2 separate regions of the Homo sapiens genome follow, and region 1 is linked to region 2. Evidence: fine-mapped expression QTL. A gene starts in region 2. The other region holds a variant in brackets. All regions are shown on one strand. Distances are between the middles of the regions. Region 1 overlaps LOC101927060 (a long non-coding RNA gene). Region 2 holds the start of CDC27 (cell division cycle 27).

The links. PIP is the estimated chance that this variant, and not a neighbour inherited with it, causes the effect. A credible set is the group of variants that fine-mapping cannot tell apart.
Region 1: its variant is the best candidate, but not a certain one, in a credible set for the expression of CDC27 in skeletal muscle (FUSION, PIP 0.70).

What each region holds. Positions count from the first base shown.
Region 1 is chr17:47,000,605-47,005,986 of GRCh38, reverse strand. All of the region lies in intron 6 of LOC101927060 (a long non-coding RNA gene), which reads left to right. It also overlaps a transcript of LRRC37A2 not described here. Among named protein-coding and RNA genes, the nearest start is that of RPRML, 24 kb to the right of the region's middle. RefSeq lists a silencer at 490-784. The variant TG/G (reference allele first, on the strand shown) is at 2,743.
Region 2 is chr17:47,186,504-47,191,867 of GRCh38, reverse strand. It overlaps CDC27 (cell division cycle 27), which reads left to right and starts at 2,573. Exons shown (of 19, transcript NM_001256.6): 1 at 2,573-2,722. The coding sequence starts at 2,696. It also overlaps a transcript of MYL4 not described here. RefSeq lists enhancers at 2,649-2,838, 2,369-2,965 and a silencer at 2,999-3,048.

The sequences.
Region 1 (5,382 bases), 190 kb after region 2:
GCAAGATCTTGTCTCACAAAATAAATTAAAAAGATTTTTAAATAGCAGGTTTCTAAAACAATGAGAAAGACAGCATTACATATCAGTGTCTACAATTTAACCAAAGCTATACTTAGAAGTAAATTCATTGTCTTAACTGCTTTTGTTCCAATAAAACAAAATAGCAGGATCCTGAGGCTTTGATGCTATTTTCTTAATCCAGCTGGTCTGTGGAGAAGCCTGGGACAGAAAGAAGCAGCCAGACTCCAGAATCCCCCATTTTAATAGCTATTCTATGCTATGTCCCCGTCTTATTCCTGGCAACTTACCTCTCAGCTCGTGCACTGTGACATTACAGCAAGAAGTACTAATATAAATGACACAAAAGAAAAAAGAAACCATGAGGTTTTGCTTGTTTTATTAACTAGGTGGGCATTGTAAATGTGGAGGGTGGGAAACAATCAGGAGACAGGAATCCGATGAGCATCTGCCATGTATCAGGCACTGCGCAATGTTCCTTACATACCACGATCCCATTTAACCCTCAAAAAACACTGCAGAGGGCTATCACTGCCTTCCTTTTACATACGAAAAAACAGACTTAACAGTTGCTCACGGGAAGCTGAACCAAGAATCAAAACAAAAGACTTTCGGGCCTCAAAGACTGCACTGTTTCCACTGCACAAAGTTGTCTGCACTGTGAGCAACAGAGGAGGGGAAAGGGGACTAAAAACCAAAACCAAAAATCCAATAAATAAAACAAAATAAATGAACTGAGCATTCAACACAAAAAGTTATAAGGAGCAGAGGAAAACATTTCCAAGGAAAACAGGAAGAAGCAAAGCTTAAGAATAAAAGCGTGACTTACACATTTACTTGGATCCAGGGGAAACTGTTGGGGTGAGATGTTAAAAACAGAGTTAGGAAGTGACTGGAGAACTTGTGTATTACATTCCACTTCCTATGGACCTTGGGTCCTTCTCTGTAACACTAATATTGGACTAAATTCTTCAAAGTTTCCTTGCAAGGACAGGCCACTCTGAAGCTAAGGGGTTACCACCAACCAAGAGACTCCTTCAGTAATAACACAGTAGGTAAATTACCCCAGAAGGTAAATATGACTGATTGTCTTACAGTAGCAGGTTTTAAAATCTTGTTGTCTCAAAAGCATTGCTATGGGCCAGGTGCAGTGGCTCACGCCTATAATCCCAACACTTTGGGAGGTTGAGGCGAGAGGATTCCTTGAGCACAAGAGTTCAAGACCAGCCTGGGCAACATAGTGAGACGCTGTCTCTACAAAAAATAAAGTAAATTAGCGGGGCATAGTGGTGTGTGCCTATAGTTCCAGCTACCTGGAAGGCTGAGGTGGGAGGATCACTTGAGCACAGGAGGTCAAGGCTGCAGTGACCTATGATTGCACCACTGCACTCCCCAGCCTGGGTGACAGAGCAAGACCCTGTCTCAAGAAAGCATTGCTAGACACTTTCTTCCATAAAATTATATTCTGCCCTGAGGGAGGCCCCCAGTGGGACTGTGCAGTGCCACCCCTGCTGCTGGCCCCTGAGGGCAGCAGGCAAGGAAGGAGCATATGTCTGTGCTGTGGGAAGTGCCAGGGAAAAGCCCCTGGATTGGGTTACCGTGAAATGCAAAGTGAGTGAAATACAAACATACCTTTAAAAAGGTAAACTAGTTCAACCATTGTGGAAGACACTGTGGCGATTCCTTAAGGATCTAGAACTAGAAATACCATTTGACACAGCCATCCCATTACTGGGTATATACCCAAAGGATTATAAATCATGCTGCTATAAAGGCGCATGCACATGTATGTTTATTGTGGCACTATTCACAATAGCAAAGACTTGGAACCAACCCAAATGCCTATCAATGATAGACTGGATTAAGAAAATGTGGCACATATACGCCATGGAATACTATGCAGCCATAAAAAAGGATAAGTTCATGTCCTTTGTAGGGACATGGATGAAGCTGGAAACCATCATTCTCAGCAAACTATCGTAAGAACAAAAAACCAAACACTGCATGTTCTCACTCATAGGTGGGAATTGAACAACGAGAACACATGGACACAGGAAGGGGAATATCACACACCGGGGCCTGTTGTGGGGTGGAGGAAGGGGGAAGGGAAAGCATTAGGCAGTATACCTAATGTAAATGACAAGTTAATAGGTGCAGCACACCAACATGGCACATATATACATATGTAACAAACCTGCACATTGTGCACGTGTACCCTAGAACTTAAAGTATAATAAAAAAAAAAGGCAAATATAGACCTTAGTGAATGAGTCTGGGTCATGGCTGGATGGGAGAAATCCCAGGGTGAGCCAGCCCAAACACGCCATCCACGTAATTAAAAAAAGAACATGCTACCCCAATGGTCAGCCCTGTGAGAAACGCATCCTTCCATCCAGCTAAAATCTGCCCATGTCCATCTTCTCTGCTCAACACCAGTCCCCATGCATTGGGCGACAGAGCACTGTACCCTCCTGCATGGAGTGGCCAGCCACTGGGCTTCAGAGCCAAACAAACCTGGGCTCAAAGCCCAGCCCTGCCCCCCTGTTGTGTGATGTCCAGGACAGTGGTGCTAGTAGTTGATGTGCTCATCTGCCCCACCTCTGCCTGGCTGTACTCGCAGCTAGTACATGTATAGTATATAAGTGCCCGACTGTATCATTGTATGTTCCAGAGTGGTCAGGGTCAGGGTGGTCATGGCTGAGCTTTTTTTTTTTTTTTTTTTTT[TG/G]AGTCTCTATTGTCCAGGCTGGAGTGCAGTGGCACCATCACGACTCACTGAAGCCTCAAATTTCCTTCCGGCCTTAAGTGATCTACCTGCCTCAGCCTCCTGAGTAGCTGGGACTACAGACCTGGACCACCAAGCCTGGCTAATTTTTAAAAATATTTGTAGAAGTTGGGGGGGTCGGGGGGCTCTGTTGCCCAGGCTGGTCTCGAGCTCCTGGCCTCAAGTGATCCACTTGCCTTGGTGCTAGGATTACAGTTGTGAACCATCACACCCAGCTTCCTTGAGCTTTTATACAGAACTCGTCTTTGAGTTAGTTTCTGTTGTATGTTCTAGTTAGGGCATTATATTGATTTTTAAAATTACTATCATTCTGAATGAATAACAAATTGTGGTACATTCATACAATGGAACAGAACTCAGCAATAAAAAGTAATGTGGGGAGGTGGGGATGGTTAATGGGTACAAAAAAAAAAGAATGAATAAGACCTAGTGTTAGAGAGCACAATAGGCTGGCAATAATCAATAATAATTTAATTGTATATTTAAAAATAACTAATGGCCAGGCGTGGTGGCTCATGCCTGTAATCCCAGCACTTTGGGAGGCCGAGGCAGGTGGATCACCTGAGGTCAGGAGTTTGAGACCAGCCTGACCAATCTGGTGAAACCCTGTCTCTACTAAAAATACAAAATTAGCTGGGCCTAGTGGCACGTGCCTGTAATCTCAACTACTTGGGAGGCTGAGGCAGGAGAAATGCTTGAACCCAGGAGGCGGAGGTTGCAGTGAGCCAAGATAGCGCCATTGCACTCCAGCCTGGGCAAGAAGAGTGAAACGCTGTCTCAAAAACTAAAAAAAAAAAATAAAAATAAAAATAATTAAGAGTGTATAATTGGATTGTTTGTAACACAAAGGATAAATGCTTGAGGGGCTGGATACCCCACTTTCCATGATGTGATTATTATGCATTGCATTCCTGTATCAAAACATCTCAGGTATTCCAGAAATACATACCCTTACTATGTACCCACAAAAACTACAATTAAACATTTAAAAAGTAATGAACTATTGGCACACAAAGCAACATGGATACATCTCAAAATAATTATGGTGAGTGAAAGAAACCTGACCAAAAAAATACACACTGTATGATTCCGTGTCTAGAAAGCACTAGAAAATATAAACTAACCTATGATGACAGAAAGCAGATCAGGACCAGGCGTGGTGGCTCACACCCGTAATCCCAGCACTTTGGGGGGCCGAGGTGGGCGGATCACTTGAGGCGAGGAGTTCAAGACCAGCCTGGCCAACATTTGTACTAAATACAAATACAAATACAACATTTGTACTAAAAATACACAAATTAGCTGGGCGTGGTGGCAGGTGCCTGTAGTCCCAGCTACTCGGGAGGCTGAGGCAGGAGAATCTGTTGAACCTGGGAGGCGGAGGTTGCAGTGAGCCGAGATCTCACCACTGCACTCCGGCCTGGTGACAGAGTGAAACTCCATCTCAAAAAAAAAAAAAAAAAAAAAAAGGAAAAAAGAGAAGAGAAAGAAAGCAGATCAGTAGTTGCTTGGGGGTGAGAGGGAAGTAGAAAGGGCAGGAAGCAGGATCACCAAGGGGCAACAAGGAAATTTTTTGGGAGGATGGCTTTCTTCACTATCTTGATTGTGATAATGATTTCAGCTGTATACTAAGGCTCAGATATTATCAAATTGTAATCTCTAGGCAGTTTATTATATGTCAATACCTCAATAAATCTGCCTAAAATGTTCAAAAATTACTGTAATTACACAAAATACATTTTATAAAAAGGAAGTCATGAGTGGAGCATGGTTGAGAACCCCCCAGCATCTGGTAGATTCAGAAGTGGGGAAAAGCATCTCTCACTTCCGCTTTTTCAGGCCGGCGTGCTGTGCAATTTATCCAGTGGCCACTAGAGGACAGCAGCGACTCAGGTACAGGAAGTGGGCGTTTCAGGGCTTCAATACTTAGTATTCCTTGCTCTGTGCTCCCTATCCTGGGAGGTGGACATTAATACCCCCATAATACTCAGTTAGAGCTGAGACTTGGGCCTTGGTCTCTGGCTCCTTATTACGCCTTGTTGGTCCCCGAACACCGGGAGTGCAGGAAGGTCGCCCAGACTGGAGTTCTGTGGCACCATCTCGGCTCACTGCAACCTCCACCTCCTAGGTTCAAGCGGTTCTTCTGCCTCAGTCTCCCAAGTAACTGGGATGACAGGTGCCCACCACCCCGCCCGGCTAATTTTTGTATTTTTAGTAGAGACGGGGTTTTACCACATTGGTCTGGCTGGTCTCAAACTCCTGACCTCATGATCCACCCGCCTCAACCTCCTAAAGTGCTCCCAGATCTTTTTAAAAGAATGTCCTACTCCAGGGAGGCAGCAGCCATAGTTCCCTGTTATCTGCAGGGCTGATATGGAGGATTGCAGATGGCACCAAAGAGTTGTGGTTCTCAAGGTGACTTTGGAAGGCCTCCCACCTTGCCTGAAACCCACGATTATAAAGCAGGTCAAAGTTGTATCATCAGATGCTGCAAGTCATAAGTTAGCATGTCAGTGAGAAAATGACCTACTGAAGGGTCATTTTTATAGGAGAGAGGGAAAGGAGAGAAGGTTCAATTGAGG
Region 2 (5,364 bases):
TGGCAGCATGTTGTGTGAAAAAGAGCTGAGTCCGTAAATGACCACACAAGTTTAGCATGAGCAAACAGTGTCATGTGACTGCTAAAAAATGTAAATACAGGCTGGGCACAGTGGCTCACACCTGTAATCCCAGCACTTTGGGAGGCCGAGATGGGTGGATCATGAGATCAGGAGTTTGAGACCAGCCTGGCCAACATGGTGAAACCCCGTCTCTACTAAAAATACAAAAATTAACCGGGCGTGGTGGTGCGCACCTGCAATCCCAGCTACTCGGGACGTTGAGACAGGAGAATTGCTTGAACCCCGGAGGCGGAGGACGCAGTCAGCCGAGATTGCGCCATTACACTCCAGCTCTGGGCAACAGAGCAAGACTCAGTCTCGGAAAAAAAAAATGTAAATACAACTGTAGTCCACTTTAATAGACGTGTCCAGATAATAATAGTCCAACTGCATTCTGAATTATTCAGAATAAATCTGGAGTACTGTGTTCAGTTGAAAGGGTCACATTTTAAGAGTGATAGCTCTTACTTATCCCTTTCTTTCCATTCCCAATCTTAGATACTCTCATCTCATATCTAGCGTGGTAGATTGTTTCCAAAGATGACCCAAAAACTCCTCCCATGGCACACGCCCTTTGTGGTGTTACTTTGCCACTCTTCCCATTAAGAAGTAGACTATTCCTCCTGGTGAATCCAGGGTGGCTCTGAGTCTTACTCTGACCAACAAGAAGTGATGCTCACAGGCCTAGGCCTAAGGGACCTCACAGCTTCTATTTTTGCGCACTTTGTTGTCAACCACCAAGTCAAGAAGCTGGAGCTAAACTACTGACTCATAAGAGGCCAGTGTGAAAAGAGAGGTCATGCAGAGAAGAAATGAAGGACCCAGCCAATAGCTACCACTGACACCCTAGACATGTGAGTGAAGCCATCTTGAATCTTTCAGCCCTAGCCAAGCCAGTGCTGGTGATGTTCTTCTATATCTGTGTGACTGTCCAATATGGCAGTCACTAGCCACATACAGGGCTACTGAATCCTTGGAATGTGGCTAGGGCATCTGAAGAACTTCATTTTTAATTTCATTTTAACTTAAACTTTAAATAGCTAATGGCTACTTTCCAGGCCAGTGTAAAAGTCTGTTACCACTCAAGTCATCCAGCATAATCCCGCTAAAGCAACTGGGCACAGGGCAGCCAAAAATCATCTTAGCACCTGCCCTTTAGGGGCTATAAGTATATATACAGTGACAAGACAAGGCGGTGGAGAAGGATGCAGTGTAGCTCTGTCAGCCTTGTTTTTAAAAATGAAAGAAAAAATATCTCCCTCTAACATCACCCAAAGGGAAATTTCCAAGCAATGGAATATATCATGATTCTCACATCTAGCCTAGAGAGCTCCTGACTAGAAAAGTAACTTTCAAAAACTGTTTCCTCATCTGCTGAAAAACAAAATTTAAACAGTCCCCTGGTTCACTCTTTTTGGGGGGAGAAGGGGAGCAGAAAGGAAATATGAGAGAGTCTACATTGCATGCTAGACACGGCCACATTTATAATACATCGAATTCTCTTAATCCTTTTTTTTCAAACTAAGCGAACATAAGTTCAGAGAGGTAATTTGCCAAGGACCTATGACTAGTTAGTGCTAAAGATAAAATTCAAAACCAGGCCTCTGAATTTCCGACCCCCTACTCTTCCCACCACAGCGGAATGCCTCACCTATCAAAAATAAAAATTTCTAATGGCCTATTGAGCTTTTCCATGATCTCTTCACCTAAGTAACTATTTCCAATTAATGCCTTCTTAGCAGACTGATCCCATTTTTCCTCCCTTCACTTTCCTATACTTCTTTTTCCTCTAATTTTACCCATCCTTCAAACTCCATTTTAAACTTTTTTTTCCTTCCATAGAACTTTCCTTATCTTATCACAATTGCCCTCTCTGAATTTTTATATTACTTATAATAGGCACCATATAATATAGCGTTCTCTGTTACACTGCTTTTCCCTTAAATAGACCTTAATCTCCTTGAAGACAGAAGCTATCCTATGTCTTTGGGGAGTGGCAATCTTTCCAAATTTCTTTAGCTTTCCCCCAGAGCCGTGAGTAGATACTTCTGGAATGGACGAATGATCTAAACTCAATAGACAAATACTTGTTGATTCATTAAAGACAGCCCCAAACTCTGCTGTTTCACCCTTTGCTTCATAATCTACAGCACACCAATTAATCCAAAAGGGCTGAGGGGCTAATCCACACTGCAGCCCCGCCACGTAACGCTACCCGCCCGCGCTGTCACGCCACGCCCAGCCTGCTGGTTGCAGATTTGGCGTAGCCCAACCCTGGGACGGCCGATTGGGCGTGGTGTGCGTGGCTGAAGGCGTGGCTGAGAAGAGAAACCTACGCTTTGGGTCAGACTCGGTAGCTTCCGGTAATCTTCGACAATTTCCGGCAACGGTTTTCTCTCTCGTCGACCAACCTCGGGTATTTCCGACTCCCTTCGGGCTTTTCCGTCTGGTTCCCGCTCGGCTTTCTCCACTTCGGGTATTCCCGTGTCCCGCTCGGAAGCACTCGGCAATCGCTCGGCCTCCCCCATCCCCCGGTAACGGTCGCTGGTGAGTTTAAATGAGCAGGGGCTGGCCGGGCCGGAGCCGCTACAGGGGGGGCCTGAGGCACTGCAGAAAGTGGGCCTGAGCCTCGAGGATGACGGTGCTGCAGGAACCCGTCCAGGTAATGATAACCTTCTTCTCTGGGGCTTGGCTGGCAGCCTCGGTCGGGAAGCAGCAGCGTAGGGCCACTCCGCGGCCTGGTGCGGCCTAGGCCCGGCTGCTTCTCCCGCCTCCCCTGCTGCCGTGTCCTGCCTATCTTTAGTCAGTTCGGAGGCCTTGCCCACAGCCTAAGCCGTGTTACCTCTGGCCCTACATTACTTCACCCTTAGCGTGAGCGGCTTCGGCGAAAATAACCGCCTTTCCCGTCCGAGCCAACGTCCGGCCAGCCTTTCCTGTCAGTCCAGGGGCCTGGCTTGACTGGGGGTGGGAGATGAGGGGCCGAAAATGCACCCCAAGCGCTCTCTTGCCTAAAAGATGATCGAGAAGCACATTTGATCGGAGCTTGTGTGATCTTCGTGACGGTAGGGCAAGTTTACGGAGGTTTTTTTTATTTTGTCTTGTATGAGAGGGTGGAGGGAGCGTAGGATCGGTCTTTTTAATACTAATTTCTATTTTGGTAACAGACTTCCTATCCCACGTTTCCTTTCTCGGTGAATTTCCCACCGGACAATGATGGTTTGAGAAGACAACTCCAAGCCTCAGTGCTGAGGCGCAAGCACCAATACCAGGGGAGGAGGTGGAAAGGGCACATTTGGGTTGTTTTCATCCTCTCTGATGGGGATCAGGAGCATTTTGTTGTGCATGTTTATAAGGCATTCAGGAAATGAAACACAAATAATGGTGTTTCTGTCCATTTCACTGCCTTTACACCAGGGTATGCTTTGACGCACAGTGCTGTGTTGCATTAAAGGAACCCTATTGGATTTTAAGTGTGTGATGCGGTGCCAAGTCATTTTCCCCCCTGACATCTGGAGAAACTGTATCTTTTGTGCCTTGGTAATGGACCAGGTCTGGGAGACTTCATCCCACTATATGATCTTTAACTTGATCAGAATTGACCTCTATCAACTGCTGTCATTGAGTCATGGACTTTATTTTGAAGTTATAAAGCAAACTGATTTTTAGAAATTCCTTCATATTGCCCTTAAAAGGCTTGAGGTATCAAACAGTAAATATTTTAATATATCACTACTTTCATATTTATTTCATTTTTCTAAACAGCATGAAATACTCATTTCTTCTAGTTTGGTTTTTTTCTCCAGCTGTTTACATATAGCAGCTATTAGTGTTTGAATTAATAAAACGTAAGATTATATCTTATGAAATTTACCTGTCTGTAAGTTGTATTAGTTTTTCTAGAGCTATTTCCATCCAAATTCTTTTTACCAGTATAGTTTCTTTTAAGATTTTTTTTTATTCTGGCTGTAGATGAGGTAATTATATATATATAATTTTTTAAGGCCTAACATGAACTTAAATAGATAAGCAGATTACTCAAGTTATTTAATTTCTGTTGCATATTCTTATAATTTTGTTTTAATAGTTAATGATTTTTTTTTTTTTGCCTTCTCTGGCCCCAGAAGTCTTCTAAAGTGATAAACTAGTTGCATTGATAGACTATAACCACCATTTAATAATAATTTCAGACTTTATAAAAGCATGGAAGGCCGGGCGTGGTGGCTTACACCTGAAATCCCAGCACTTTGGGAGGCTGAGGCGGGTGGATCACCTGAGGTCAGGAGTTCGAGACCTGCCTGGCCAACACAGTGAAACCCTGTCTCTACTAAAAATATAAAAAATTAGCCAGGCGTGGTGGTGGGCGCCTGTAATCCCAGCTACTTGGGAGGCTGAGGCAGGAGAATTGCCTGAACCCAGGAGATGGAGTTTGCAGTGAGCCGACATGGTCCCGCTGCACTCCAGCCTGGGCGACAGAGTGAGACTCCATCTCAAAATAAATAAATAAATAAAAAATAAAAGCATGGAAAAGAAAAGGAATATGTAGCCTGTTTCTAGATAGTACCCATCAGGTTTCCTGTTTGTCCTTAAAGTACTCTGAGCAGTAATACACTTTGATATTTTTAAGGCTTAAATGTCAAATTTGCTTCTTTTTCATAGCAGCATTGTCCATTAGATTTTTGAGATAGTGGTAGAAAGTTTTAGGATATGACTAGGTGAAAATTTTGGTTGTATAGTATAAGAAGCCATTCAAGAATGGATTTGGAACAGTGAGAAGAACAAGCAACTTTGGCTACAATGATAAAGATCAATGATCAGGGATAGTGCTGCAAATGGGAAAGAATTAGGAAGAGAATAAAAATAGGACAGATATATAAGATACTGTCTTTATTAAAAAAAAAACTATGATGACAGATTGCGTGTATTTGGAAAGCAATGAGAGTAAGTTGGAAAATTGTTCTTTCTTGGAATGCCTCAGAGTTGATGGTATTACTAGGCATAGGAAAAAGTTCACAGAAAATATGAAGAACTGTTTTCTGCATTTTTTTTTCTTTAAAGTTTTAATGTAGAATGGCCAGTCCGATATACCATATATGCCTAAATTAAAACTCCGTCTCAAATTACTACCTCTCAGAAGAGTATTACTTTATATTTGAGTCCTTACAAAAGTCTCACATATGAGGCAGAATTTCTGTCAGTTCTTTTATTTTTAATGGTAACTATTTGGAAAGACACACTAGCCTAAGTGACTTCAGTGAGAGCTTTTTGAATATTTATAAAAGTCACCTGGTGAAATTGGTTTTTAAA